Homo sapiens: one gene and its partners. The protein of the gene in region 3 interacts with the protein of the main gene of each other region in a pairwise test. Each region holds a gene or a part of one and is shown on either strand. Other genes may lie near its edges. The genes, in order: BAG6, LSAMP, LRRC61 and ICAM5.

Region 1 (8,023 bases), on a different chromosome or scaffold from region 3:
CCTGGAGCAAGCCAAAGCATCCTTTTTGCTCACCAAGGGCCCCATCAGCTCCAGGCTCAAAGATGTTGCTGGATCCACTGAGGCGTTGTATGAAGGCAGCAATACTTTCACTGCTGCCAGCCCGAGCCCCCAGGGAGCCCAGCAGGGAGCTGAGCACACCCTGCACCACTGAGGTAAAAAACTCCGGTGACAGGCTCTCAAGACCCAGGCCTCCAGGACTCCCTGCGCCACCAGAAGGGGAGCCTGGTGGGGGCATGGTCTGCTGCTCTGGGGCAGGTGGTGGGGGTGGAGGAGGTGGGGGTGGTGGAGGGGCTGTCTGTGTTGCCTGGCAAATAAAGAAAGAACAAAGAACAGAAAGTGAGGTGAGAATGAAGACACACGGAAATAATACGGCATCAAGAGGGCACAAACCAACGGGTCTGGGAAGATGGGGAGTTACATTCTGATCTTCACTGCTTAAAGCAGAAGTATGGTAGGTATTTAACAGAGTCAGGCAGCACAACTTACCTACCTCTTCCTCTGAACAGGCTGTCAGAAAGCAGTGACACTAATTACTATACTTTCTTTTTCTAAACCTCATTTTCTTCATCTTTAAAATGAAAGGTTCAGAGTCAATGAATTCCCAGGGCCCCTTCCCCTAACATGTCACTAGGGGCTCTTACCCAGTGGTTATATAATGGCAAGAAGGTACCACTGCCTGGCTGGGCCGGGGGACAGGAAGATGAGGTGAATGGCAAGCCAGCCACTCACCTGCAAGAAGTCAGTCATGCCTTGGAGAAAGGCAGGGACACCAGGCATCGCCACAGTGATGGTGGGAGAAGCCACACCAGACCCTCCAGCCCCTGGCCCTGCAGGCCCTAGCAGGTTCCCCAGAAGCTGAGAGAACTGAAGATCAGCCATGGAGGGTTGAGGGGTGGGTGGAGGCTGGGCAGGCCCCCCAGGAGCGGGGCCAGCTGTGGTAGCTGTGTTGGTGGTGCCAGCACTGGCAGAAGCAGTGGCAGGGGCTGGCGGTGGAGCCATACCTGGGGTCCCCTGAGCTGTAAGAAACCAAAAAAAGAAAGCTGGGCTGAGCATGGTGGCTCTTGGCTGTAATCCTAGCAACTTTGGGAGGCCAAGGCATGAGAACTGCTTGAGCCCAGGAGTCTAGGCCACATAGCAAGACCCCATCTCTACCAGAAAAAAAAAAAGACAATTACTAGCCAGGAGCTAGTACTGCTAGCTACTCAGGAGGCTGAGGTGGGAGAACTGTTTGAGCCCAGGAGTTCAAGGTTACAGTGAGCTTTAACTCACTGGATTGCACCATTGCACTCCAGTCTGGGTGACAGAGCAAGACTCTGTAACTTAAAAAAAAAAGAAAAAAGCTGGCCGGGCACGATGGCTCAAGCCTGTAATCCCAGCACTTTGGGAGGCCAAGGTGGGTGGATCACAAGGTCAAGAGTTCGAGACCATCCTGGCCAACATGGTGAAACCCCCTTCTCTACTAAAAACATAAAAAATTAGCTGGGCGTGGTGGCGTGCACCTGTAGTCCCAGCTACTCAGGAGGCTGAGGCAGGAGAATCACTTGAACCCGGGAGGCAGAGGTTGCAGTGAGCCAAGATTGTACACTGCACTCCAGCCTAGCAACAGAGTGAGACTCCATCTCAAAAAAAAAAAAAAAAAAAAAAAAAGCTGAAACCTGAAGACACAAGACACTACAGCAGCCCCATTCCAGGAAAGCAGGAACCAAGAAAATATGGAAAGAACTGGAAAGTGCCAGTGAGCAGACTAGGAAAGGAGTTTAAACTCTGAGTGGGGAAGAATGAAAACTCACCCACAAGGACTGGCTGCATAAGAAGCTGCCCCACAAGGCCGCTCACCATCTGGGCCAACGAGGCATTGGTACCCAGACCGGCGCCCTGCTGGATAGAGAGCAAGGGAGAATTTCAGACCTGCCCTTCCATGCACCACCACAGGAGTCTCTCCCTAGACTGTTACGCACTAGAACTCCCCGACCCTTGCTCACCAGTGTCCCAGAGACTGGGGGCCCTCCAGGATGGGAAGGCCGAGCCTGTGGAGGAGTGGGCCGGGCAATCACCACCCGGGTTGGAGCTGTTGGGAAGCCTGGCACCTGCTGTCCTGTGGGTGGCAGAAGAGACAGACCGAAGAGGGCTGAGGGCCAGGCCCTTGCCAGCCAGCTGCCACCATGGACTGTGCCCTACCTCCCAAGCCTCCCCTTCCAGGTCATTACCTGCGGCCGCGGAGGCAACAGCTGCCACCATGGCCTGATGAGTGATCTGGTGGGCGACGGCGTGCATGAACTCAGGGGGCAGGGAGGGCAGCTGGATGAGGGTGGAGCCTGGGGGGCGGGTCTGATGTAACCTTGAACCTGGACCCCTTCAACCCACCCACTCAGCCCTTCCCTTTCTCTACCCAGAGCTCAGCCTGCCCTGATGCCCTCACTCTTACCCAGGGTTTGGCCATGACCAGGGGGTCCCAGGGGGCCAGTGGGAGCACTCGGAACACCACCAGGCTGTGTGCCAGAATCTGGGCAGGGAGACAGAGACAGTGGCCCTGAGGTAGGTAGGGCCAAGGCCTAACTATATCCTTCTGAGATCAGGCATACTTCAGGCCCATAATCCCCCAATCAGAAAGCCTGCCTTTCCCTCCATCTAAACAGGGAGAGGTACTCCCTTCACCACACAAACACACCTCCAAAGACAAACCAACCCCCACACCCCCCACATCTGTCTACTTAAGCTTCTGCTCTGGTCCCCAGGCTACCACCACCAGCATGTGCCTCTCCCTTCCCCACCCTGTTCCCTCACACCTCAGCATGAACCTCCCTCATCATGCTGATCCTGCTCTTCTCGCCAGCAACTATTCTCACCTTGAATGTTCATGTGCATCATGACCACGGGTTCCACACTCTGGTGGGAAATCCGGATGACCCTCGGGTGGCTGGTGGCTGGCGGGGGAGCTGGACCTGGCGGGGGAGCCCCCTCAGCTGAGGACTCGACATTGGTAGAAGACGGAGCCACGGATGAGGCCTGCCCAGGACCAGGGGGAGGTGCCTCTGCATTGGGAGTTGGGGGGGGCCGAGTCCCATTTCCTGTCATGGTCACAGTGGTTCCCACATTGATCTGAAAAAGACAGATGGACAGGCAGATGTGAGAAAAATACAAGAGCCTAACCAAGAAAACCTCATGATAAACCTCTAAAGTATCTCCAGCCTTCATCACCATGTTTCCAGTCTCCTCCTTTCCTAACCTCCTTCAGGCCCAGTAGCTACCCTGGGTCACTCTATCAACACCCCTCACTCTCCCTCAGGCCAGACTCCCCCTAACCCACCTGTATGGGAATGGCTGCCTGCTGGAGCACCATGGGGGTGGTGTAGTGAGACATAGGCCGGACCACATGCAGGTGTCGTGGGGGCGTGCAGGCCAGATTGCAGCGCAGGTCAGACAGTGCAACAAAGGTGTTGCCCAGCAGTCGCAGGCTCTCCCCTACCAAGTTGATCAACCGCTGATCCTCCTCCCGGCCCTCGTGCTGCGCACAACCAGCCAAACACAAAAAGGCAGAAAATATCAAGCTGGAGTCCATCTCACTAATAAAAGCAATAATGCCTACTGAGAATACCATGTCCTCCAAAACTTTCAGTTATATCCTTGGAAGTTTACATGTAGACCAAATCTTTGCAAATAAATTATATCTTATTCACATAAGGAACATCCTATTAAAACACTACTATGAATCAGTAAGTCATCATATACTGATCTCCTGTACTTTACATTTTCTAAATTCATTCAGGGGCACAAGGGGTACGATACGAGGACAGTGCTTACAGCAAAGATTATCACCTTCTCTGTAAGGGAGGACAAAATCACTTACAGGTTTAGAGAGAAATTGTTTTGTTGCAATGTGTGTTTTTTTGTTTTGTTTTGTTTTTTGAGACAGTCTCGCTCTGTCACCCAGGCTAGAGTGCAGTAGTGCAATCTCGGCTCACTGCAACCCCCTCCTCCCGAGTTCTAGCGATTCTCCTGCCTCAGCCTCCTGAGTAGCTGGGATTACAGGTGTGCACCACTACATCCAGCTAATGTTTATATTTTCAGTAGAGATGGGGTTGCACCATGTTGGCCAGGCTGGTCTCAAACTCCCAATCTCAGATGATCCGCCCACCTTGGCCTCCCAAAGTGCTGGGATTACAGGCGTGAGCCACTGCACCTGGCCCTGTTGCAATGTTTTTCCAGGGAGGGAAAGAGTTATCTGCATTTCAGCCTGTTCTGTTTTGGGAGTACTGGGGCTGAGGAGAAAGGGCAGGGCCATCAAAGGGCTCACATTGTTATTGTAGTCCGTGGTGGCAGCAGCACCCAGAACCTCGTAGTAGCGCTGCAAGAAGGGCTGGAGGCGACTCTCCAGCCGCTGTAGCTCCTGGAGCACCTCGACATACTCCGCAGGGGAAGGATGGCTGTGGACAAACCCAAGGGGCAATGAGCCAAAGCCTTCCTCAGATTCCCACCCTCACAGTCAACAGGGACCACATGTGCCCTCTTTCTCCCTGGTCTCCCAGAGCCCTGGCCCAATCCTTCTCTGGACCAGCAGAGCTTCTATTCTCTTCAACCTCCGCCTCCCAGGTTCAAACGATTCTCCTGCCTCTGCCTCCCAAGTAGCTGGGATTAAGTTGCCTGCCACCACACCCGGCTAATTTTTGTTTTTTTTTTTTTTTTTTTTTTTTTGAGACAGAGTCTCGCTCTATCACCCAGGCTGGAGTGCAGTGGTGCGACCTCAGCTCACTGCAAGCTCCGTCTCCTGGGTTCACACCATTCTCCTGACTCAGCCTCCCGAGTAGCTGGGACTACAGGTGCCCGCCACCATGCCCAGCTAATTTTTTGTATTTTTAGTAGAGACGGGGTTTCATCATGTTAGCCAGGATAGTCTCGATCTCTTGACCTCATGATCCACCCGCCTCGGCCTCCCAAAGTGCTGGGATTACAGGCGTGAGCCACTGTGCCCGGCCTGTATTTTTTAGTAGAGACAGGGTTTCACCATGTTGGCCAGGCTGGTCTCGAACTCCTGACCTCAGGTGATCTGCCCGCCTCTGCCTCCCAAAGTGCTGAGATTACAGGCATGAGCCACTGCACCCAGCCAAAGCTTCTATTCTTTACTCCCACCCATGAGAGGATAGGGAGAAGAAAATGAACTGCTCCCACCCTCCCCACCACAATCCTGCACCTACAATGGTGAAAGACTAATTCTAAGAAAGAGAGCAGGCCTTCGTGAACTCAGAGGAGAATTCCGATCAGGCTCAGGAGATACCATTTGGATTTCCTTGCCGTAGGGAGAGCAGCAGTTCTTCTCAGCTGCCTGTCCTAGCGTCATTTACCTATACCGAGAGAGCCCCTCCTCGCCCCTCAATGCTAACCCTTCAACTAAGACCTCCAAGTAATCCTTTCCCTCCCTTGCCATGGTTCATTTCCTTCTCCCCATACTTCACTTAGGATTCCCCACCCACTAAAGATTCCCTCCATCTCTCACTTGGGTGCATTTGTTTCCGGGGCAGGTGTTGGGCCCGCTGGGGCTGGGCCAGGAGTGAGCTCCGGGTTCTGGGCTGGGGCACGCTCCTCCACTTCTTCTGCCTCCATGGGCTCCCGGGGAGGTGCTTCACTTTCAACTGGTTCTGATGTTTGAGAGCTCAAGGCTACTGGCTCCGGGGTCACAGCCGGTGGCTGCGGGGGCGGCTGACTGTGCTGCGGTTGGGGCCCTCCTCGACACTGAAGGTAGGGGAGAGTCAGGATACCAAAGGCAGGGTAAGACTGCTGCAGAGGATTACTCTACAGGAGACTGAACAGAGAAAGTATCCTAACTAGACTCCCTGAAGGCATGGCTCTGCAATTTTATCTCCGACTCGCTAGCAACTAGCATAAGACTGACACAAATTAGATGCATAATAAGCATCTGTAATTTTTTTTTTTTTTTTTGAGACAGAGTCTCGCTCTGTTGCCCAGGCTGGAGTGCAGTGGCATGATCTCAGCTCACTGTAACCTCCGCCTCCCAGGTTCAAGAAATTCTCTTGCCTCAGCCTTCTAAGTAGCCAGGCCTACAGGCGCGTGCCACCACACCCAACTAATTTTTGTACTTGTAGTAGAGACAGGGTTTCACCATGTTGGCCAGGCTGGATTGGAACTCCTGACCACACGTTATCCCCCTGCCATGGCGACCCAAAGTGCTGGGATTACAGGCAGGAGCCACCACACCCGGCCACAGCATCTGTAATATTTGTAAATAAATTTCTAACAAAGAGTAGAGATTGTGGTTTCCTTTCCTCCACAAGTTGGTTTCCCAGCCTCCACAAGTTAAGAGAGTAGAATCCTTTAATTGAAAAGAGATGCCATGAGACTAAGTCTGAAACAAACTCCCCAGATACCAGGCACCAAGAGGATTGGCAGAAATGAGAGAGCCTCACAAAGATACTTTTTCTGCCCAAAAGAATGAATACTGCAGAGAAGACTAGATTATGAAGGCCAAACCCTGTGGATGTGGCCAGTGAAGCCCTAACTCCCAGGCTGAGAGAAAAGGGAGAGGGAGGGTGGAGAGAGACCCTAGCCAGCCTTGCCCACTTACCTCCATCCGGGATAGTAAGGTCTGTATATCCCTGATCATGTGCTGAGCCATCACCAGCCGTACCCGGGGCTCACTCTACAATGAGAGAAGGTTTATCAGGGTAGGTTACAGATGAAGCCATGAGTTCTACCACCTACTAAATCAGGTCCCAGCCATCTCTCAGCCAGGTCCACCCCACCTCCCAGCCTCCTTCTCCCAGATCCCCTTCCCTGACCCTCGGAGGCCCCTCAATACCTGAATCGGGGCCTGTTCCATGTTGATGTGAACATCCACAGCAGAGCCGTCACTCTGGGGAAAGGGTAAGGGAAGTTGTTCTGGGAGAAGCCAACACTAAGGCCTCCACACCTCCAATTCATTCCCTGGAGCCCTACCTCCTTTTCTCCTTAAAGACTGAGACCAATAGCACACCACAGGGCCCCCTGAACCCAATCTAAAGATGGAAGCATCTATCTTATTAATTCCCTGGTGCTACCACAACCAAAGCTACCCACAAAAGCCCTCCCCTGTGGAACATAAGCTTACAGGAAGATTGAAGGTTCCAACCATGACATAGCTGTTGGCATTCCGGTCATGAACAGAGGCCCCAGGCCCCCGAGTACCAGGGGGGGATCCCCCACCATGAGTGGCTGAGGCAGACCCCGTCCCAGAAGATGCCCCAGAAGGGAGGTGAGTCTGAGGAGGAGCCCGTTCCACCAGGTGGATAACCTTTCCCCCAACATCTGCAGAAAAATAGACACACACCAAAACATAGTATGAACAGGTAAACCCATGGCCTCAGTTCATCCCTCCAGACAGTAGCCCCAACCTCTGAACTGCCTCCCCAGCCCCCTTACTGTATTCCTGAAGCTTCTTATCATCTTGCAGAACTCGTCCCTGGTAAATGAGCCGTTGTTTTTCAGATGGGATGCTGACAGAGGCAGCAATGTGCTCCTTAAACTCTTTTACATTCATCTGAAAAGAAGAGGCATGCACAGGAATGGAAAGAATGGAGGAAAGAGGAAGAACAAAGACAGACAACCGAGTTGTGGAGGTGAGGGGTAAAAACCACCACAGAATCACTACCCGTTTGTCTTGACCGTGAGATCATTACTGTGCAAACCCTTAAACTAAAGTAACAGCTGTCAAAATACAGACAATAAATTTGGCTTGGCGCGGTGGCTCACACCTGTAATCCCAGCACTTTGGGAGGCCAAGGCAGGCAGATCACATTAGGTCAGGAGTTCGAGACCAGCCTGGCCAACATGGTAAAACCCCTTTTTTACCAAAAATACAAAAAAATAAGCCAGGCATGGTGGTCGCCTGTAATCCCAGCTACTAGGGAGGCTGAAGCAAGAGAATCACTTGAATTCGGGAGGCGGAGGTTGCAGTGAGCCGAGATCGCATCACTACACTCTAGCCTGGGTGACAGAGAGGGACTCCATCTCA
Region 2 (4,637 bases), on a different chromosome or scaffold from region 3:
AACTTGGGATTAATTCTCATGGAGGTGTTTCAAAGTCAATTTGACTCCTAAGAGTAGCACTTCAGACGCTCCCAGTCACTCCTGATGTATGATCTTTGGACTATAGATTGCTTATTTCTCATTTTCTTTCTATGTGTCCTGTGTAATGCAATAGGGCTTCTATAGAGATTCAGGAAACATTTCGTGAAGATCATAGCTCTCAGCAGTAATAGAAAACAAACTGCATTTTTGTAAGTAGAAATAACAGGTGGCTGTAGAAGGTACCTTAGTTCCTTCTACTGCTATGAGGTAGCATCTCATTAAAACTAACCCTTAAAGATAACCACTACTATGGAGACTTTGAAGAAAGAGCATATTTTCTAATGTTTTTGGTATCATAACCCAAGGTTGCACTGAAGTCTAACAATCATAAGTGTCTTAATTATTTATAGCATTTCAGTGGTAATTTATACTTATTTCTTTCAGTCCCTTAAGGGAAAAAAAGAAAAAGAAAAAAAAAACACGTTTACAGAATCTCTTTGCTTAGGTGGAGAAAATTCTTGTAAATACCACGTTCCTTTCTGTGACAGACGAGGCATTGTTAGAAGAGCTTCAAGTGATTTTTCAGTATTATTTCTGCCCTTCCCTTACATGATATTCATATCATTGGCTTCATTTTCTCTTTTATTCATGAAAACCTCCAAGAAGCAGTGCAGTCAACCACAAGATCACTGACAGGTCAATGAAGACACATCTCCTTTTCACGTTTATTTCATTTTGTTTTAAGATCACAGAAGAGCAGAGCATTCATACGTGTAAAGTAACAGAAGAGAGAAACAGAATTTAAATACATTTAAAAAGAAAAGAAAAAAAGCTTTTTTTCATTTTAATTTTAATTTTTTTTTTTTAACACACATTGCGCTTTTTATCTCCTTCACAGAGCTAGTACCCAGGGAAAAAAATCCACCTAATAAACAAAAATGAAAAACCTTGAAAAACAAAAAATCCCAAACAAAAAATGGCCATGTGTTTGTATCTTCAAGGGAAGATCAGTTCATGTCTACAGGGCTGAAAAAAGGAATATATTTATATATATATTTATATGTATATAACACTGTTAATAAGGAGAATTCTAACCAAGAGCAGGATTTATACACCCTTCAGTAGAGCAGTGATAAGGAAGGTGGGGAGCATTGGGAGATGGGGGAGGGAGTTGGAAGTGTTCTCTTTTGCTTCTCTCCCCCTGAATTTCTTCCCTTTAACCTCCCTACTCCAAGTAAATACTTAGGGAGCAGAACTTGGCCACAGTTCACCAGGATGAACAATTTCCATTCTCTGGTGAAGAGCAAAGACTTAGGGAAGTGGGTTCAAAAGAGGCTCCTGGTAGCTTGGGATTGCTGCAGCGTGCCATGAAGCTAGGACTTCCATGGGTTTTCTTCACTTGCAAGAAGCATATTTGTACTGTGCCTGGCTTTACATAGGGAGGATTGTGCAGAGTAGAATGTGGCTGTAGAAGTAGATCCAGGAGCACTGCCCAAAAAGAGGTACTTCTGAAATGACCATGAAAACGGGGAGTTGTCCCATGGACAGGTCATTCTCCCACTTAGAGAGAGCTTCATAAGTAATCTAAGCACATCATATATCCTTACCTACACAAAGTGATGTGATTGCTGGGAAGTGATGAACAAACCCTACTCTTCAGTGACTGGAAACTCTGATGCCTTCTGTTCTTTCAGACAATAAAATCAAAGGACAACTTTGGATAGATGCTAACCTGAGCCTCTAGGACAGCTTAGGACAAGAGGATCTGTGCTCAATGCATCTAGAACATGGCACAAGAAAATAATTCCTTATTAATTGCTTGAGAAATCATCCTTTCTGCTTACCCTTTTCTCAGAGAACCTAACTTTCACATTTGATTTTGGCCTTCACAACAATTCATACTGTCTTCAACTCTGTAACCTCCTAAATTGTGTTTATTTTTGTTTTATTTTCAGCTTGTCTTCTTTAAATAGAATTGACTTGTACTTTTTGAAAACAATACTTGTTTTCTCTCCATCTATTTGCTTTATTTCATAGCCTATAATTCAAGCTTTGGGAAACTTATCCCATGAGAAATTCCTTCCAAAACAAAATGTATTGTCTTGCCCATTTCTTACAGTTCAGCCTTTGAACCTGCCTGGGACCCCATGCTTACCGCCATCAGCACAAGCAAAGAGTTTCCAAAGACACACATTTACTGTAATGAGGTACTTGGCCCAGGATGACAGAAAACTAATGTTTCCTTTCTTATGCACAATGTCCTCATTTGTTACATGCATAATACCCAGTCTGGCTATTTTCCTTCCTATGAAAGATTATTAGAATATAGTTCCACATTTAGGTTTTATAATATAAACAAGGAAACAACCCCAGCTATGTCAATGTCCTTAGTGTAATTTGAATGTGTCCCTTCTCTACACTGCTATAAAGTTTTGATCAGAAAAAATTTACAGACCCAGTCCAGAGTCCCTGTATTCTAGCAGTTTTGGGTTTAGAAATGAAGACGGTAGAATGATAGTTCTGAGAAGTGATGAGAATACAGAGACCAAACTAGAGATAACAAACAGCTGCTGTTTACAAACAGTGCTGGGCACAGCACTAAGTGAATATTAAATTCTTATTCAGAATAAAGGTTAGAGTTGAAAGAGATTTTAGAGACGTCAGCCGAATCCCTCACTTTCAGGATGAGAAAACCAAGACTCAGGAAAGTTAAATGACTTGCCAATGTCTCACAGCTTTATTTGTGGCTGAACTTGGGGTTAGAACCCAATTCTCCTGACTCCCAATTCAATACACCTTCTACCTCACTTTAAAGTTGTCAGTTTATCTTAGATGATGAGGAAGCAGTACCAAGAAGACACTTGGGGGTTGATACAACAGGCACATGAGCCCTTAAAACTCCTTCCTGTTTTTTTTCTTTTTTTTTCTCTTAGGTAGATTAGTGCATTTAAAGCCTGAAGTTAATTTGACCTAAAATTTTTATAAGTCTTTGCAGAAAGTTCACTTGTTTCCTGAAATCATCTCCTTGATAATTTTTTATGTAACAGTTGTTCATATTGTAGGAATGATATATATGTCATCCTGTTACACGTGTCAGGCACTTCAAAAAGACTCCAAGAGAACATGCCTGAGAAAGATAACTCCCAATTAAAAATGATTCAGTCCCTCACTTGCAATATTCAGGATAAATGTGTGGAAACATTAGGCTACCAGATAAATAAAAGGTAGTTATTTCCTAGGGTGACTCAGCAAGATATTTCTCGAGGATATAACATTTTTTATATTGCACAATTTCTTAGAATCCAGATGGCAAGCTTTCCCACTGCTTTTGTTGAATGGAAAATAAAAACTGAGTAATATTTTGCTCATCAAGGTTTAGGTCACTTCCTTGGAGCTATTTAAATAAGACATCTTAGATGGTGAGAAAGGAGTAAAAAGAAGATAGCTGGGAGTGGATACAGCAGACATATAGCCCTTAAAACCTTTCCCTCTATTTCCCTTGCTTTGGGGTCGGGTGAGACAACTACAGCAACAGTTGGGACAATCTCCACTTAGATCCTGAAAGACCAAAGAGGTGACTTGAGCAGGATATAAACCTTGAACTGTTCCTGTGGGTCTGCTTCCTTTGGCTAAGGCAACCTCATATTTGGAGCTTTAGTCGTAATTCTTCCGATTCTGAACTGTGAAACGTTTCAGTTTTTATTTATTTTTATTTGATTTTTTTTTCCTTAAGAATCATAGTAAACCTTAGCAGTAGTTGGGCACTGCATGAAAAATGAAGTTTACATAGTTTATATTATGTACATAAACTAGTGATTTACATTGATTTACACATGATTGGTGCCTAATTTATTAATCAGCACGCAGCATGTAAATGTGCTCAAAAGAAATCAAGGTTTAAAATAAGTTTTCCATAATATTCATAAACATTTTCGCTGGTGTAAATGTTAAACCTAAACCCAACGTTAACACCAGCTTCCTTGCCAAGAGAAAAGTGAGATGTACATGCTGGGTGAAAACAAATTCTTTCCTAAATTTTGGTTGGCGACATTTGAACAGCATAGCTACATGCAAATGAGAATAGTTTACTTCTTTTCTGCTAGTATGCACATAAATGTAAACTCCATTTTGCATTTAGTGAGATGTTTACAGATATTATGCCAACCATGATGGAAAATTTACATCACTGAGGCAAATGCAGTCTTTGGAGAAGAAATATTCTAAACATTTAAGCAAGGAGGAGGCTTCCTAAACTGCATTTTTGTTTCTTATCTCACCATTTTTGTGGTGTGTTTCACATTTGTCTTCAAAATATTAATAGTTTATGTAGGTAAGATATAGCACTGTACTTACATTTCTCTTAAAAAATGATATTGGTAACCAAGACTAAATGCAGGCTAAAAGTGTATGAGGATGAAAAGAAAAATGAGGACATGGTTAATCCCATTAAACATAGTCTATAAGCAAATTTCTTTTCGCCAAATAATTACAAAACGGAAAAAGTGGGGCTCTATGTCTTTCTACGTGAGCATAGATTTTCTTTCTAAACAACCAAATTCAGTACTTTTCTTCCTTTTAAGATCAAAACATTATTCTTAATTTGTCTTATAATACAT
Region 3 (8,445 bases):
TGTGTAGGGGCTAGGTAAAGCTGCAAAGGAAACACAGGCTGCTGTCCTGGGCCCACAACTGCTCTTGGATGTCACACTGGAGGGGACTTAACTCTCACTTCATGATTGAGGAAACTGCAACCCCAGAGTGTGAACATCCAGGCCTCCAGAGGCCATCTGCAGAACGGGGTCACCCTCCAAAGTATTTTTTTTTTTTTTTTTTCAGACTGGGTCTTGCTCTGTCACCCAGGCTGGAGTACAGTGGCATGATCTACCTTGTTGCAACCTCTGCCTCCTGGGCTCAAGTAATCCTCCCAAACTCAGCCTCCCAAGTAGCTGGGACTTCAGATGTGCACCACCACACCCAGCTAATTTTTGTGTTTTCTGTAGAGACGGGATTTCACCATGTTGCCCAAGCTGGTCTTGAACTCCTGGGATCAAGCAATCCCCCTGCCTCAGCCTCCCAAAGTATTGGGATTACAGGTGTGAGCCACTGCACCCAGCACACCCCAAAATCTTCATCTTAAGACCTACCCAGTTACCCCAGGACACCAATCTTGTTCTGTTTCCCAATTAGCTTTGTCTCATCATAAATGCTATACTCTGCAGATACTCTTGATTCACTCAATCATTTAACAGAAATTCATCAAATGTCTACTATGAGCCAGCACTCTGCCTTCAAGATATGAACAGAGGAGAGTAGCTGCCTGGCTGGCACTTGGGGCTCAGGATGAGACGACAACCTAGAAATGGGCTCATCATTAGACCAGGGGGAAAGTGGGGTATGGTGCTATGAGGCGGGGAGGGATCCCTGGGGGGCCCCCGGGCTGACCTACTGAGAAACAGGGTCTATTACACTGAAGAGCTTAGACCCGTCTTGCAAGGTGTTGTTTACCTTAGGCTATTGCTTCACAATCTTCAACCCTCGCAGGCCCGTCAGGTAGATCTGGGATTTTGTGTCATCACTGGTACAACAGTGACACCACCATGTTCTCTTCCACAGAAGTACTTTAGGATGACAGTGCAGCTGGCACTGTTGAGAGCCAACCTTGAATCCAAATGAATCTAAAACGTAAATTTTAAAAAGAAAGTCATTGATAAATTTCAGTACTTTATAACTAAGAAGTTACTTGTGGCCAGGTGTGGTGGCTCACGCCTGTAATCCTAGCACTTTGGGAAGCCAAGGTGGGTGGACTGCTTTGAACTCAGGGGGTTGAGACCAGCTTGGGCAAGATGGCGAAACCTTGTCTTTACAAAAAAAATACAAAAAAATCAGCCAGCTGTGATGGCCTGTGCCTGTGGTCCCAGCTTCTTGGCAGTCTGAGGCAGGAAGATGGCTTGAGCAGGGAAGTGGAGATTGCAGTGAGCCGTGATTGCACCACTGCATTCCAGCCTGAGCAACAGAGCCAGACCCTGTCTCAAAAAAAAGAAGTTACTTGTGACACACATCACCACAGCTGACAACACATTGGAGGCCTACAACCACAACAAGACAAGATTCCAAGGGCTTCTAAGCTGAAGCACGGCCTTTTGGGCTGCACGCCTGCCCATAGTCGATCATGTGGGCAGCAGTCAGGAAAGCGCCCTAGCCAGGCCACATGGGAAGCAGGCACATCCCTGGGAGGCAAAAGGGAAAGCGGGCCAGGCCGGGGTGACGGCAGGGCGGGGTGATGGCACAATGCATGGAGGAGACTGTGGGGAGAGCTGTTCAGGAGGTGGCCCATGCCTAAGCCTCAAGTGGAAGAGGAGGAATGATGGAGAGCGCCTCCACAGTGAGCCTCTTTCCTCATACAGGTCCATGTGGGCTATTTTGGGGCAAATCTTCAGGCAAGTTTCTAGAGAAACTGAAGGAAAACACCAGAGGGGGCTGCCCAGGTAATGCTGACAATACAGGGAGGTGAGAGGATGAGCAGATCTCAAAGGTGACTGAGAGGCAGAGGGGAGAGACAAGGAAAAACCAAAGTAAAGTGAAGTTAGGGAAACCAAGAAAAGACTTTCCAAAAGCAGTGGTCAGCGGGGTCAAAGGTCCCTTCAGTGGGCGGTACAGCAGGAAGTGGGGGAGAAGCAGGAACCGGGAATGCTGGAGGTGGGGATGGGAGGGAAAAGGCTTGGCTCTGTCCCTAAACAGAGAGAAGGTGACCTGGGAAGAGCGGGGAGGCTAACTACACAGGGAAGAGAAGCTTCCTGGAGAAAGGGATCCAGGGCACAGGCGGTGGAAGGGATTGGCCTCAAGAGACCAGGAAGAACTCTCATTTTTCCTGACAGAGAAAGTAGGATGGGTCTGGTAGCAGGCAAGTCCTGGAGTGCTGTGCAGAAGGGAAGTGAGGCAGCTTATGCCTGAGAGCCAGGCATGTTGATTGCTCACGGGGAGCCGTACATCTGTAAAGGCAGCCAGCGGCTGGCTGAGTGATCTGGCTTAGCCTGGGCTGGGAAGCACCTCCGCACACTGGCTCAAGAAATTAGACCTATTCTTCTCGCTGCTCTCACCAAGCCTTTTCCCAAGTGCGTGCCCAGAAGGAAAGCGGCCACTCTTCTACTTCTCTTGTGCCTGCAAGAGAAGTAGAACCCCACCCTGGGCATTCCATGATTATGCCAGGCCTTTCTCACTCCGCCCAGTCCCTCTCCAGCCCCTCTGCTCTCAACTCCAGCACTGCAGGGGGACAGAGTGTCTACTCCACCCCCACCAGGCAGGGGATTTTAAGCACCTGCTGGGCCCTCAAGTCTCATCTTCCTCCACAACATCTGTGAGAAGATTGAAAGGTGGTGAGAGAAAGGGATAGGAGGAGATGAACGTGTGAAAGGAAAAGAGGAGAGCAAGCCATTGCATGTTTTGGGGTTTTGTCCCACACGCAAATTTGACTACTTATAAAGTCTAAGCAAGATGTTTTAAATAATAATCATGCATCATTAGGTTTCATACTGTGCAAAAAAAATGACACAAAGTGAGATCTGTTACAAACGACACGGCAGCACTCTGCTACTTTCTGGAAGCTTAGGGCTAACAATGGAGTCAGAGCATGGCATCCAGAGCCCGTCTCTGAGCACGGCCGTGATCCTGCTCCAGCACACGCCTCGGTTTCCTCGTCTACATTACGGGAATAGTAACAGCACCCGCCTCATGAGATTGTTAGTGTTAAACGAGTTAATTAATACCACAGTATTTCAGGGCAGTTCTCGGCACAGAGGGAGAGATGGGTAAGGGCTGGCTGTTCCGGAAGATTCTGGCCTCTCCCAGTGTGTTTCGGCGCGAGGGCACCGCTGGCCCAGCAGGTGGCCCCCCGGGGCCGGCACGGGCCCCGACAGCCGCCCCCTTCCCTGAACCTCGGCGGCCCAGTCCCCGCTTACCTGAGGGGTGGAGCCGGCAGCCTGCGGAGCCACTGGCCAAGCTGGGAAGTCCGGCGCAACTCCGCACCGCAGAGCCGGCGCCTCCTCGGCAGGTAAGAGCCGCAGCCCCGCCGCCCGCCGCCTGGCGGCCCCTGACCCCTGGGCCGCGTGCCCACCACCCAACTTGTTGGCCAGCGTGCTTCTCCCAGCGCCGCAGGCCTGAGCTCCCGGAACGCGCCCAGGGGGCCTGGCCAAAGGCCGTAGTGGGCGCTCTGGATTCCGGGATGCGCCAGGGGTTACTTCCGGAAGCGCAGCCTGCGGGGGTCTTCGCGCGCACCCCCCGCCTCGCAGTTGGTACGTTCCTCCTACCTGCGGTGCCTGAGTGCGCAGGCGTGGGCAGCGAGGCGGTGCGGCCGGAAGCGAAGGGGCCGTGAGGTCAACAGTCGGTAATCGTTTATCGGTGCGGCCTTAGAGAAAGGACCTCCAAGCCCTTGTTCAATACATGTTGGGTGGTGGTCACAGGTGCCAGTCTCCGGACGGATGGCGGCCTAGATTTCCTCCCGGACTCGGTGGCACCCAAGGCCCCCTGCACGCCGGCGCTGTGCGTGCCAGGCTGACCGCCCGAGTGCGACCCGGACCTCGTCCGCACGTGCAGATGGAAGGGGCCACAAAGACGATAAGGATCCAGGTCTCCCGCGTGGAAGGCTCATCTATCGGTCGGTTCAGGAAATCCACCCAGGGTGTCTCCTGGTGTTATCAGAAAGGGGTCCCGATCCAGGCCCTAAGAGAGGGTTCTTGGATCTCATGCAAGAAAGAATTCAGGGCAAGCCCATAGAGTAAAGTGAAAACAAGTTTATTAAGAAAGCAAAGAAGTAAAAGGATGGCTACTCCATAGGCAGAGCAGCTCCAGGGCTACTGGTTACCCATTTTTTGGTTATTTCTTGATTATATGCTAAACAAGGGTTGAATTATTCATGAGTTTCAGAGAAAGGGGTGGGCAGTTCCCGGAACTGAGGCTTCCTCCCCTTTTTAGACCATATAGAGTATTTCATGATGGTGTCATGGCGTCTGTAAACTGTCATGGTGCTTGCTGGTGGGAGTGTCTTTTAGCATGCTAATGCATTATAATTAGTGCATAATGAGCAGTGAGGACCACCAGAGGTCCCTCCCATTGCCATATTGGTTTTGGTGGCGTTTAGCCAGCTTCTTTACTGCAACCTGTTTTATCAGCAAGGTCTGTATGACCTGTATCTTGTGCCAACCTTCTGTCTCATCCTGTGACTTAGAATGCCTAACCTCCTATGAATGCAGCCTCATTTTACCCAGCCCTTATTCAAGATGGAGTAATTCTGGCTTAAACACCTCTGACACTGGGGCAAATGCCTGCTGCCTGATGACTCCCACAAGTCCTTAACACCTAACCCAGAGAACATCTGGGCCTGCATCCACTCTGGTGCTCTGCCACTCCTGCAGCTACAAATTGTGTGGGAGCCGAAGAAGTCATGTTCCCTGGACGAGCACAAAATGCCTGTTTGTCCCATGTTGGTTCCACATGTGCACCAAAGTGAACAACTTTTGTCTCCCTGGCTACCTTGAACTTCTTTCCACCTCCTCAGTTGGACATATTCAAGGGGCTGGCCCGGGGGCAGGCTTCCCTAGTCTTCCCAGGGGCAACCTCAGCTTTTCCCATATCTTTCAGATGACCCTTCTCCTGCCCCAAGCAAATTAATGCCAAGCCAGTCTAGTTCTCCAGCTTGGGCTACAGCTGGGACCCCTGCCCAAGAATAGTGATTTTTATCTTTACACTTTATCCAAGTTTTTTATTTTTATTTTTATTTTTTTGAGATGGAGTCTCACTCTCTTGCCCAGGCTGGAGTGCAGTGGTGTGATCTCAGCTCACTGCAACCTCCACCTCCTGAGTTCAAGCGATTCTCCTGCCTCAGTCTCCCAAGTAGCTAAGACTACAGGCGTGAACCACCACACCTGGCTAATTTTTGTATTTTTAGTAGAGACGGGGTTTCGCCATATTGGCCAGGGTGGTCTCAAACTCCTGACTTCAAGTGATCTGCCCGCCTTGGCCTCCCAAAGTGCTGGGATTGCAGGTGTGTGCCACCCTGCCCAGCCATATGCAAGTTATTTTTAATTTCAGTTGATCTCCATGCCTCGGAGATGGAAGTATTAGTTTCTCCATTATATGGATCAGAAAATTGAGACTCACACAGCATGTTACAGTAGGAAATGGCACTAAAAGAAAAATTATTCAAACAATTGTTAAGGTGAGAGACTTTATTCAAGAACAGCTGCAATAGGGATTATGCAATAGGGGCAAAAAAATCAGGCTTAACATCAAATACAAGGACAGGTGGAGATTTATAGTTAAGCAACAGGGTGGAAGTCAGCAGATGGAAAATTACTAAGAGGACACATAAAGGTTAGGGAGATTTTTGCTGAACACAAGCCGAGGTGATCAGATACCAAGGGTAGGGGATTTTTGCTGAACTGACTCAGCAGGATTCTTGCTAAAACTGAACTAAGTGAGTTAAGGACCAGCCCAGGGTCAGGGCCTAGTCAAAACGAGGACTGAGAGGAGCCTGACTCAAGTTTAGTCAAAGAGTGAGTTCTTTTCATGAGCTACCAATGATTTGAGTTGTATTGTCAGAGGTGTCCTAACTAGAGTGACACTATCCTAAATAAAGGCTGGGGAAGGCAAGACCTGCTGGGTTGCATTCCCAGGAAGTCAGCACTCTTGATCACAAGATGTTTATTGTTGAGGAAACAAGTTAATGGAAAAAGGCATTCTTGTTTTTGTTTTTGTTTTGGAGATGGAGTCTCACTCTGTTGCCCAGGCTGGAGTGCAATGCCACCATCTCGGCTCACTGCAACCTCTGCCTCCCGGGTTCAAGTGATTCTCCTGCTTCAGCCTTCGAAGTAGCTGGAATTACAGATGTGCGCCACTTTACCTGGCTAATTTTTATATTTTTAGTAGAGACGGGGTTTTGCCATATTGGCCAGCCTGGTCTCAAACTCCTGACTTCAAGTGATCCACCCACCTCAGCCTCCCGAAGTGCTGGGATTACAGGCTTGAGCCATGGCGCCTGGCCTGGAAAAAGGCATTCTTAATTTAAACTATATTTTGCTCTAAAGATAATAGTCCACTCATAAATTCTTTCTGAAATTAATTGCACAAGAGAATAACAATACAGATAGTCTGTCACAAGCCGATCACAAGCCTTTGTAATAAAATACACTATTCTTAGCTCTAATATCCTACACAAACAAGCATTACATTTGAGGTAGGGCGTTCTTCCTCTTGCTTCCTGAGGATACCCTACTCTAATAGATTAGTTTCTAATAAACCATTTAAACTTTACTGTACTTTGCGACTCACCCTAAATTCTTTCCTGTGCAAGATCCAAGAACCTGCCCTTGGGGTCTGGGGTGAAACCCCTTTTCTGGTAAGAGTACTGTTACATGGGATCCACACTATGGGCTCAGAGTTGGTCCCTTTCCAGCGTTAATCCAGAAACACTCTAAAACAAGGAGTTTCTTACTCAAAAGAGGGCAAAAGACCAGTCAGGGATGGATTGGCAGAGGAAGAACGGAAGGAAATGCTGATCTTCCTGTAGGTACAAAACTTGTCACTGCAGCCAAGCCAAGTTTCAGGAGGGTTGACCTAAAATCATCTCGTTTTGCTAGGTGTTTTACAAAGGATAAATAGGACTGGCTCCTGCCCCTAGAGCTTCCAGATACAGCATCCCTGTTTGCCCTGTTTGCAGGGGTGACAGAAAGTGGGAAGTAGCTACATTAGCTGCTAACTCTGTCTCGGGTCAGGGGAGAGGTTGGTAGGGTTAGCCCCAACAGTGTTTTAAAATGCAGAGTAATTGTCAAGACTGGAGTCTGGGCAAACAAACAATAAATAAATAAATACAAAGTAATTGGATGGACAAAGTGCTTTGCCTCCATCTTCCCAAAGTCAAAGGCACCTGAATTTGCCATCCTGCCCTAACTCTTCCTGGACCATTTCATAGCCTTGTGGAATGTCAGAGCTAGACAGACCCTTAAGAAGTTTGTTCTGGGCCAGGCGAGGTGGCTCATGCCTATAATCCCAGCACTTTGGGAGGCCGAGGCAGGCAAATCACCTGAGGTCAGGAGTTCAAGACCAGCCTGAGAAACATGGAGAAACCCCGTTTCTACTAAAAATACAAAATTAGCTAGGCATGGTGGTGCATGCCTGTAATCCCAGCTATTCGGGAGGCCAAGGCAGGAGAATCGCTTGAACCTGAGAGGCGGAGCTTGTGGTGAGCCAAGCTCACGCCATTGGACTCCATCCTGCCTAGGTAACAGAGTGAGACTCTGTCTCAAAAAAAAAAAAAAAAGAAGAAGCAATTTTACAAATGCTGTGCAGTGAATAAATTTCAGAGTCACTCGACTTGGAACCGGGGATTTTCCCAGTAGAGTGTACACTTTAACTCTTAAATTGCCTAAATTGACAAGACTTGCTCAGTAATAGACTGGGTAAAGATTAAATCCAAATTTTTGTCTACAGCCCAGGTATCTTCCTACTTCAGCAGTGTTTTGGGATGTAGAAGAACCTGGGAAACTTGTTTGAAAATGCAGAATACAGGGCCCACACCCATTATGTGGGTCTGGAAGAAGCCCAGAAAATGACTTTTAAAATAAACCCCTAAGGGAGTGAAATGCATGAGAATCACATGGTTTATGTAAGCTTTTGAGAAACACTGATCTAAAGCAAATTTTTGGGCTCACGGGCCCCCAGAAGAATCTTGAAAAACTCTGTATGTTCTTTGTTTTGTTGTTGTTGTTGCCATTGTTGTTGAGATGGAGTCTCACTCTGTCACCCAGGCTGGAGCGCAGTGGTGCGATCTCGGCTCTTCGGGTTCAAGCGATTCTTCTGCCTCAGCCTCCCGAGTAACTGGAACTACAGCTCTGCACCACCACGCCTGGCTAATTTTTGTATTTTTAGTACAGATGGGATTTCACCATATTGGCCAGGCTGGTCTTGAACTCCTGATCTCGTGATCCGCCCACCTTGGCCTCCCAAAGTGCTGGGATTACAGGCGTGAGCCACCGCAACTGGCAACTCTGTATACTTTAAAGTTGGCATCTTTATTAGTTTTCCAG
Region 4 (8,871 bases), on a different chromosome or scaffold from region 3:
TAAGTGCCTGAGAGCGCCCGAGTGACTGGACCCAGCAGGCCCAGAGCCAGCACGGCCCCGCCGTCGGAGCGCGCACAGTGCACTGAGGGTTCTGGGTTCCCGCGGGCCTCGCAGCGCAGCGTCTGCTCTGGGCCCTCGGGCCACGTCCAACTCCTGGGGCAGTCCGAATCGTCTAGCCGGGGAGCGTCTGCGGGCAGGGCGTGGGGTTACAGAGGCTTAGACGTAAGAAATGGCTCCGCCTCCACGACACGGTGAGGGAGCAGGCGGGTCCTTGGAAGTCACCAGAAGGTGGGGGGCGAGGGGTTATCACCAACTCACATAGGACACGAAGCTCTGCGCTCCTGTTCTTGATCAGGGTCTCCCCGTCCACATCGAGGGTGGCGTCGCAGAAGAAGCTGCGTCTGTCGTCGTTCTCGGTGGCATTTAGCTGAAGCTGGGCGGGCTGCCCCGGGACCGCGGCTGGAACTCCCTCCAGTGTGACCAGAGCTTGGGCCCCAGCTGCGCAGGTTACTGTCACCATCTGCCCCTCGGAGACGCTGGGTTCGCTCAGGGTCAGGAGTGGTGCCGGGAAGCCTGGGGGCGGAGCATTTGGTCGTAGTATACTGACCATACCCCTCCCTCCGGTCAAGGCCCGCCCCTTATCTGCCCGAATCCTCGGGGTGCTGAGAACGAACTAGGGTACGGCGCCCCGCCTCTCAGGCTGTACAGGCTCCTCCTCCCCAGCGATTACGTCTCCGCCCCCACCTGCCCCGCCCCTCGGGCCACGCCTGTTCCGGTACTGAGGTCCCGCCCACTCTTCGCCCCGCCTTCGCATTCCTCTGGTCCCACCTCGGAGCCGCGGAGACCCCGCCTCCTTCCTTACTGTAGATGGTCACGTTCTCCCGGGTCTCCCGGTTTTCGCCCCCCAGGGTGACGTTGCAGACCAGCTGCCTGGCACCCTCCTGCTCTGCGCTAGCTGTGGCTGTGGCAGTGGCCACGAATGCGTCCCCTTCGAGGGTGACATCAGGACTCAGATTCTGGTCCCCCAGTGCGAGGTAGACCCTGGCCTCTGAGGCTGGAAACAGTCCGTCCAGAGTGCAGCTCACGGGCCTTTCCGAGCCAACTTCCAAGAGCCGGGGAGCAGCGAGGCGCGGGGCATCCGGAGACAGGGCTAGGGGTCGAAGAACCAAGTTTGAACTAACTCCGAGCGCTCAATATGTCCTAAGCACTTGACATGCACTATCTTATCGTATTATCATCCTCAAGGCACGGAGGGGGAAACAGCTCAGCCGGCGAGGGTTGAAGTCGGGGTCAGCATTCAGATGTATCTACCTCTAAACCTCCTAAACACCGACCGACCCCACTGGGTCCCCATCTCCTCCCCACACCCACTCACAGAAGGTTCGGAGCTCTCTGGGGGCCGAGCTGTTTTCAAACAGTCCCAGTCCGTGCGGCCGCAGGTCCAGCTCGGCGCGACACGAGAAATTGGCTCCATGGTCCTCCCTCCGAGCCAGTACCGTGGCTGTGAGCACCGCGCCCCGCGCTCGGGGTGGTTCACCGGCGAAGCTGCGGCGGATCAGCTCCTGGGCGCCCCGCAGCAGGGTCAGCGTGAGGCTCGCACGGGGCCCGGCGCCGGGGACCCTACAGCTCAGGGTGAAGTTCTCGCCCACCGGCTGCCAGGGAGGCAGCGGCATCAGCTCTACGCGATCTGGTCGCTCTGCAAGGGGGAAGAGTCCGCAGCTCTTTGAACACCGGGACTTGGAACAGAAGGTGGGGCCTGAAGGGGAGGACCCTGGGACCCAGGGGGCGGGGCCTGGGAGGGAGGGAGAGTAGTGGAGTACGCGCGTGGCCACCCAGAACTCACGGAAAGTGCGAATGAGCCCACGCGCCTGTAGTGTGCGCCGCGCGCAGCGGAAGAAGCAGACGGGCTGAGTCTCCGGCTCGCGAATGTCCACCAGCTGCCGCGCCAACCAACGCAAACCCCTCTGGGTCCCGTTTCGGCGCAGCGAGGTCTCCAGGCCACCGCGCTCCGGCCGAGGGCAGTTGGTGCTGCAATTCAGCCACAGCGAGCCCCCGCGCTCCACGAACGCCACGCGAGGCTGCAGGTCCGCCCAGAAGGGCTCCTGCGAGACCGCTGCCCAGGGAAACGCGGGCTGAGCCTGGGGAGCCAACTCCCTGACATCTTAGCGCCCCTATGTCGAGTCAAGGGTTCTCAGAGGGCGGGGAGGAGGAGGAGAGGCTGCAGCCAGGGAAAGAACCCAGGCGTCCCGCGTCCTGCCCAGGCCTCCGGTTTAAAGGCGCACTCCCAGAGTCTAAACCTCGAGGGTGTCTCTGGGACGTGGTAGCAGAGAGCCATGGTCTCCAAAGCGCCGATGGAGCGGCGGGAAAGCATGGGGGGAGGGCGTAGAGGAGAGGAAAGGTGGGTTCTTGGATGAACACAGCAAGGCTGAGAGAAGGGGACCCGGGATGGGGGATGGGGGATGAACCAGTTCTCAGGGTCCTGGCAGAATGCCGGGATACGAGGAGAGTGCGTTTGCGGCAAGGGCAAAGGAGAGACGAGGCTGGGTCAAGGATCAGGAAGGACCCTACACCCGGTGAAGAACACGGAGCCGGGACGCAAGGCTGGGCTCATGGAAGGAACCGCGGGAACAGCTGAGGGACCCGGTTGCCAGGGCTCTGGGTGGAGCGGGAACAGCGCCTCTGAGTCAGGGTAGTTGGAGAGATGGAGTCTTCGCGGACCGCGAGTGGGGAAGATGCCAGTCCGTGGACCATGGTGCACAGCACAGCGTAAGGAGGTACCCGGGGAGCGGACAGGAGAGACACTGGGTCTCCAGGGCGAAGGGTTGGGTGCGGAAGAACACCTAGGATCTCGAAGCGGGTAGGGGCTATCGAGGAGTCAGGAAGCTGGGGCTCGGGTGTGTGTTGGGGAGGAGGGGGAAGGGGAGAAGACTCAGGCTCGAGGTGGGGGCAGAGGCGTGGGAGCGAGGCGAGGGCAGAGCTGGGAGGGACAGGAGGCCGTTTCTCAGGTCCAGGGACTCCGCCCCCGCCCTGTCCACCCCGAACCAGAGCGGGGCTCTTACCTGAGAGGCCGAAGAGCCCCAGGCCCAGAGCAGCCCAGAGGCCGAGTAGCGCCCGGCGCAGCCCTGGCGAAGGCCCTGGCATCGCCGCGGCGGGGAAAGCACAGGAGGCGAGGAGAGCGCGAGCCGAGGAGCTGGGCTAGAGGACGGCTCCGCGCGGCGCGGCGGGTGGGGTGTGGGGGAGGCAGAGTTGCGCTTGGGGATTGGTTTAACGTTGGTAACTTGGTTTCCAAGGAGGGGGCGGCGGCAGAGGCGGCGGGGGGGCGGGAGGCGAGCGTGCGCTAAGCTCCTGGCCTTGGTGAAGGCGAGCTGGCAGGAGTGAGCGACCCCTGGGGTCTACGTGGAGGCCGGCATGATGGCCCAGGGCCTTCTGGGGGCGACCACGCTCTCTCGCGTCATCCCCGGCCGCGACTCTGGGATCGGGGGATGCTGGGTTGCCCTTCCCAAACCCCTACCCCAGCCCTGGCTGAGATGCCATGATAATAAGCTGGACTCCGAGCCCCGCCCCCACATTTAGCTCCTCCCACCAGCGCCCCTTAGGGCGGGGATACATTTGGGGACTAAGAGAGATTTGGGAGGCACTGGATGGGGAAAGGACAGTTCTAGGGGAGGGTGTGGGGATGCCTCTCTCACTGATCCTTCTCCTTTTGACCCCGCGGAGCCATACCTCTAAGCACCCCTCCGGGTCAGCTCCCGCACGCGACGGAGGGGGCGGGACGAAAGTGCCAGCGAGCCGAGGACACGTGTGCGTGCGCGCAGCGTTCGCGGGCGTCTAAATTAGAATCCGCTCGGCTCCGGGTCTGTATTTACCCAGGGTGCAGCGGGCACGTGTCTACTCAGCGTGTGTGAGCTCGAGCCACCCTGGAGCGCCCCTGAGTCCGCCTTCTGCTCGGTGGGTGGGGGCCCTGACATCCACGCGAGAACAAGGGACCGAGGGTGATGCTTTTGACTCCGCTTCCGGGCCCCAAGCTTTGACACCCCCCACCCCCAACTCCATGCGCTCATCTGGCTGGGTGACTACCAGAACATCGTCAGAATTCGAGTTTGTGATATTCCCTGTGGACCATCTGATCACCCCTTCCCGGCTGCCACCACATGGATACCTCTTCTGCGTATCCACGTCCCTCAATATGTCCGTGGGACCCTCCCCTCCCCACCATTCGTGGTCTCACTCCAGCGTGGTAAGTTATTTTGGAGATGAGTTCTCGCTCCACAGTTGTTTGGCCTCCAGGAAAGCACAGGGTCTGAAGGTGGGGCTGGGATAGGAAACTTAACATCCAATCAGAGCTGCCGCGTGGTGGCGGCGGCGCCAATCAGGAAAGCCATACCATGAACCCCACCCCGCCCCTGCCCGTGGCTCTCCCCGGCCCGCGCTGATCCCACTCGATAAGGCCAGCAGAAGGAGAGGTTTCTGTGACACCCGCTGGGGATACACAGAGTCTGGGGCTTCGGGACCCCAGGTGGGCCCTGAGTGAGGAAACCTCAGGTGCCCTCAGGGAGACAAGGAACTTGGAGAAAGTGATCGCAAAAACAACAACAACAACAAAAACAAACCAGTTCCTCCGAAGAAGGGCAGTAATGCGGACCCTTAGGTCACAGGACAGAGGCTGGTTAAGGAAGCCTTTATTGATTCCAGAGGGTTCCCCCGCCAATATTTATTTTTATTTTTATTTTATTTTTGGAGACAGGGTCGTGCTCTGTCCCCCAGGCTGGAGTGCAGTGGCACGATCAAGGCTCACTGCAACCTCGACTTTCAGGGCTCAAAGGATCCTCCCAACTCAGCCTCCCGGGTAGCTGGGACCACAGGTGCGGGCCACCACACCAGGCTAATTTGTGTATTTTTTGCATAGACGGGGTCTCACTATGTTGTCCAGGCTGGTCTCGAACTCCTGGGCTCAAGCGATTCTCCTGCCTCGGCCTCCCAAAGTGCTGGGATTACAGGCGTCAGCCACCATGTATGGCCATTTCCCCAGATTGTTTCATATTCCTCTTTTTCTCGCTCAGCCGGCATAGAACATCCCCCTTTACGCCTGGGACTTCATAGCTAGGCACTTGCATAGGTACGCAGCGCCCACAGTGAGGAGGATCCCTACAAGGGCAGCGATGGAACCGGAGGCCAAAGCTGTGGGCGCGGGGCTCCAAGCTGGGAGCAGAAGGCGAGAATTAGGAACGGAACACAGGGAGGTCTGTCGACCCGCGTGGAGCTCACGCTTGGTCTGTGCGCCCTCTCGGGGTCATAACTCTCTCTGCCCCCTTCCTCCTAGTCCCCAGGGTTACAGGGGTGCCTCACCGAGCATCAGTGTAATGGGTGCCGAGCTGTTGCGGACCACCAGGCCGTCGAGATTGAGGCGCGCGTGGCAGATCACGGGCTGCCAGAAGTCGCGGGGTCCAGCAGCAAACTCGTAGGTCAAGGTCACGTTGGCCAGATCCAGGCCGGTGAAGCGCTCCAGGCTTTCGGAATAGATGACCCGGCTTCCATGCCTCAGGGTCACCACCAAGTAGCCCACCGGGAACACCTGCGTCACGTGGCAGCGCAAAGTGTATTTCCTGCCCTTTAAGACCGGAGGCTCCAAAATCACGCTGTGGGGCGGTTCTAAGGCAAGGGGGAGCCTCTGAGTGAGGTCCGCGGGCGCTCCCTATAGAGCGACTGTCAACTACCCTTCCCCCACCTCTTCCAGCCCCCTCCCCTCACCCCAGCCGGGACCGAGCCCCTGTCCCTCACTGTAGGCGGTGATCCTGGAGGTGGCCCAGCGTGTTTTTCCTGCGCAGGTCACGAGGCAGTGCGCGAGGGAGCTCCAGGCCCTCACGTCGAGCAGCTGGTAAGACACCCAACCCGGCCCTCTGAGCGTCTTGCCTTGCCGCAGCGGGGTGCGGAGGCTGGAATTCTGCGGCTGGGGACAGCTGTTGCTGCAATTGAGCTGCACTGACTTCCCCGGCTGCACAGCCACGAACTCCGGGCTCATGCGCACCCAGAAGGGCACTGAGGTCCCGGAGGGCGCGAGAGGGCTACCCTTGGGGCTTTGCGCCCGCTTAGTCCGGCGTCCCAGCGCGCTCCCAACTCCCGGGTAGGCGGCCGCCAAAAAAAACAGCAGCGACAGAGGGAACAGAGACCCCATGGCAAAAAGCCCGGACTAAGGGGCCCCGCGCCAGAGAGCCAGGGCCGGCTCTAGAGATAAGGAGGCCCGCAGCCCCGCCTCCTCGACTCCACCCTGGAGAGGAAGGGGAGGCCCCAACAGAGGGCCCGGGAGTACTGCAAAAAGGGATTCCGCTCCCCAGGTCAAGAATAAGATTCCAGGCCTCATTAGAAACCAAATGTTTTTTTCTGGAGAGGAGTCTTTAGTTTTCACTAGAGACCCAGAAGGTCATAGAAAGTCCGATTTGGACCAGAACCTCAGGGTATGGCCATCAACCCACAATGTTTTCTTGGGGGAGGAAGTGGGAGGATCAGGCTGTGGCTGCTTAGAAAGGACTCCAGCTGGATGTGACACCTCCCCTCAACTCACACAAGGCTGAGGCAGTTGAGAAAGCTTTATTAACTAACACAAAGGAAGTCTGGGCAATGTTGCGAGACCCCGTCTCTGGAAAAAAAAAAAAAATCAAATTTGCCAGGTGTGGTGTTGTGAGCCTATGGTCCCAGCTACTCAGGAGGCTGAGGTGGGAGGATCACTTGAGCCCAAAAGGTCAAGACTGCAGTGAACCATGATTGCACCACTGCACTCCAGCCTGGGTGACAGAGCGAGAGCTTGTCTACACATACACACACACACACACGCGGATGAGGCTTCCAAAGCTGGGAGGGAGTCCTCCAATACCTTGGCCCCCTTCCCCACTGCTTGCAGGACCCTGATCACTGCAGGAAACTGGAGCTGCATAGTGCAAGCTCCCAGTGAAATGCAAACAGGACAAGAGGACAAGGCATAGCTTGGGCATATTCCCTGGGCACTCATGTCCAGACATGACCGCTGAGTGTCATTGTGAACACTGGCAGAAATGTATGTGGGTGGGGAGGTGGCTAACAAAGGTGTCAGTTTTGGGGGGAAGGGAGGAATAAGGCCTCACTGGGTAATCTCTGAACCTGTAACCATTACCAGTCCATATAGTGCTTTTGTGCCGATAGAAAAATCACTCCTTCTGGGGAAAGGCAGGTTGGCCAATGAGAAGTCCCAGCCCCATTTGATCTTTTTGCCAGGCACTCTCCTGCAGTGTACAACCTGTACAACTGTACCTGGTGACCTTGAATGTGATTAGGACTGGGAGCTCCGTGAGGCCAGAGACCTATGTTCATTTAGCCTACATAAAAGACACTCAATAAATAGCTGGTAAAATAACAAATGAATAAATACATATCATCAAGGGTTGGGGTCAGTAGACAGCAGTGCCCAAGCTGGCATCCGTCAGGAAGTGTGGGCCTTTGTGTTTTGATGCTACACATGTCTATGGAGGGCCACTTCTTCTGTAAGTCTGTGGGGCCTCAGCATACCCAATAGGCAGCAAGTTTCAGTATTTCCCAGTTGTATGTCCTCATGGTGGGGCTATGTCTCCCCCACCACTTCCCCTCTCATCAGGCTAGACTTTAACATCCATCAATCATGTCTTGAGTCTTGCTCCTTCCTCTTGGCTTAGTCATGTGACTACAGATCAGATGCGTGGCCTAGTGTTTTAGGTGTGCAGGTACCATGGCCCCAAATGCTGTTGTATCTGACTGAGGACAATGCCCTGTCCTCCGGCGTCCCAGGGCCGGTAGGTGTAGCTGCATGGCATATGTCTTCCACTCTGTTCAGTGTGGCACCACTGCCACCAATATGGGAAGGCCGAGGAAGAGGCCCTGTCCCGGGATAGGTTCAGGGAGGCGTGGCTTGTGTGTTCGGTTTCATGGGGGTCCCTTTTTGGGCCTGTTGTAGTCTGTATTTCTTGATCTTCCGCTGGCGGTTATAGAGGTACGTGCTGAGGCCTGCAGTGCCCATTATGACTGCGGCTGCTACCACAGTGATGATGACAATCTCATACCGGGGGGCTGTGGGGAGGATACAACAGGCGGTGAGGATTGCATTAGGTCCATGGCCCCTGCCCCCACCCAGCTCTGCCCGCCGGCTCACTCACAGAGCACATTCACGGTCACCTTGCGGGTGACCTCCCCTTGAGTGCTCCTGGCCCGACAGAGGTAGGTGCCCTCAAGATCTCGAGTGACAGTCACTGATTCCCCGATGGGCAGTGGGAAAGTGCCATCCTTTAGACACTTGAGCTCGGGCAATGGGTTCCCCCAAGCCTGGCACATTGGAGTCTGCTGGGAATTTTCTGGCCACGTCCAGTTTCCCGGACAATCCCTCTCGTCCAGTCGGGGGCCATCTGGAAAAACACGATGAGATGACATGGAGGTGGGTGGGGGCAGGACTTGGAGGCAAGACCTTATGGGACCTTCAGGGAGATTGGGCCTTGGGGGATAGGGGCCATTGACCAGCAGCCCCACTCACACAGGACACGAAGCTCCCGGGTCTGGTTCTTGTGTATAAGCTGGCCGGCCACCTCCAGGGTTGCAGAGCAGGAGAAGCTGCGCCCGTTGTCCTCTGGGGTGGCCTTCAGCAGGAGCTGGGCCCTCGGGCCCAGTGGCTGGGCTGGAACCCCATTCAGCGTCACCTTGGCTCTAGGGTGGGCCTCACACTTCACTGTCACCTCGGTCCCTTCTGAGACCTCTGGCTTCGTCAGAATCACGTTGGGCGCCGGAAAGCCTGGAATAGGCACACAGTGAGCCCCGCCCCGGGTTCAGGTCACACCCCCAAGAAGCCCCACTCCGCCCCTGCCCCTTCTTACTGTAGAT

What was found.
Region 1: the proteins of LRRC61 (region 3) and BAG6 interact in binary tests that used the Homo sapiens proteins (3 or more experiments, as listed by UniProt).
Region 2: the proteins of LRRC61 (region 3) and LSAMP interact in binary tests that used the Homo sapiens proteins (3 or more experiments, as listed by UniProt).
Region 4: the proteins of LRRC61 (region 3) and ICAM5 interact in binary tests that used the Homo sapiens proteins (3 or more experiments, as listed by UniProt).

What each region holds. Positions count from the first base shown.
Region 1 is NC_000006.12:31,642,079-31,650,101, forward strand, and holds part of BAG6 (large proline-rich protein BAG6), read right to left. Parts: intron 7,550-8,023; coding exon 7,432-7,549; intron 7,318-7,431; coding exon 7,121-7,317; intron 6,887-7,120; coding exon 6,833-6,886; intron 6,674-6,832; coding exon 6,599-6,673; intron 5,749-6,598; coding exon 5,513-5,748; intron 4,446-5,512; coding exon 4,316-4,445; intron 3,527-4,315; coding exon 3,329-3,526; intron 3,121-3,328; coding exon 2,868-3,120; intron 2,552-2,867; coding exon of another isoform or gene 2,525-2,551; coding exon 2,447-2,524; intron 2,337-2,446; coding exon 2,229-2,336; intron 2,117-2,228; coding exon 2,004-2,116; intron 1,900-2,003; coding exon 1,812-1,899; intron 1,038-1,811; coding exon 751-1,037; intron 326-750; coding exon 34-325; intron 1-33. UniProt on the Homo sapiens protein: ATP-independent molecular chaperone preventing the aggregation of misfolded and hydrophobic patches-containing proteins.
Region 2 is NC_000003.12:115,801,652-115,806,288, forward strand, and holds the end of LSAMP (limbic system-associated membrane protein isoform 1 preproprotein), read right to left. Parts: 3' UTR 723-4,637; downstream 1-722.
Region 3 is NC_000007.14:150,318,440-150,326,884, reverse strand, and holds the start of LRRC61 (leucine-rich repeat-containing protein 61), read right to left. Parts: upstream 3,531-8,445; 5' UTR 3,325-3,530; intron 1,045-3,324; 5' UTR 875-1,044; intron 1-874.
Region 4 is NC_000019.10:10,284,314-10,293,184, reverse strand, and holds the start of ICAM5 (intercellular adhesion molecule 5 precursor), read right to left. Parts: upstream 3,234-8,871; 5' UTR 3,142-3,233; coding exon 3,060-3,141; intron 2,114-3,059; coding exon 1,844-2,113; intron 1,697-1,843; coding exon 1,376-1,696; intron 1,151-1,375; coding exon 863-1,150; intron 574-862; coding exon 319-573; intron 188-318; coding exon 1-187. Other genes in the region: ICAM4 (intercellular adhesion molecule 4 isoform 3 precursor), read right to left, coding at 5,001-5,199, 5,347-5,572, 5,779-6,172; ICAM1 (intercellular adhesion molecule 1 precursor), read right to left, coding at 7,898-8,070, 8,157-8,402, 8,528-8,782, 8,865-8,871. UniProt on the Homo sapiens protein: ICAM proteins are ligands for the leukocyte adhesion protein LFA-1 (integrin alpha-L/beta-2).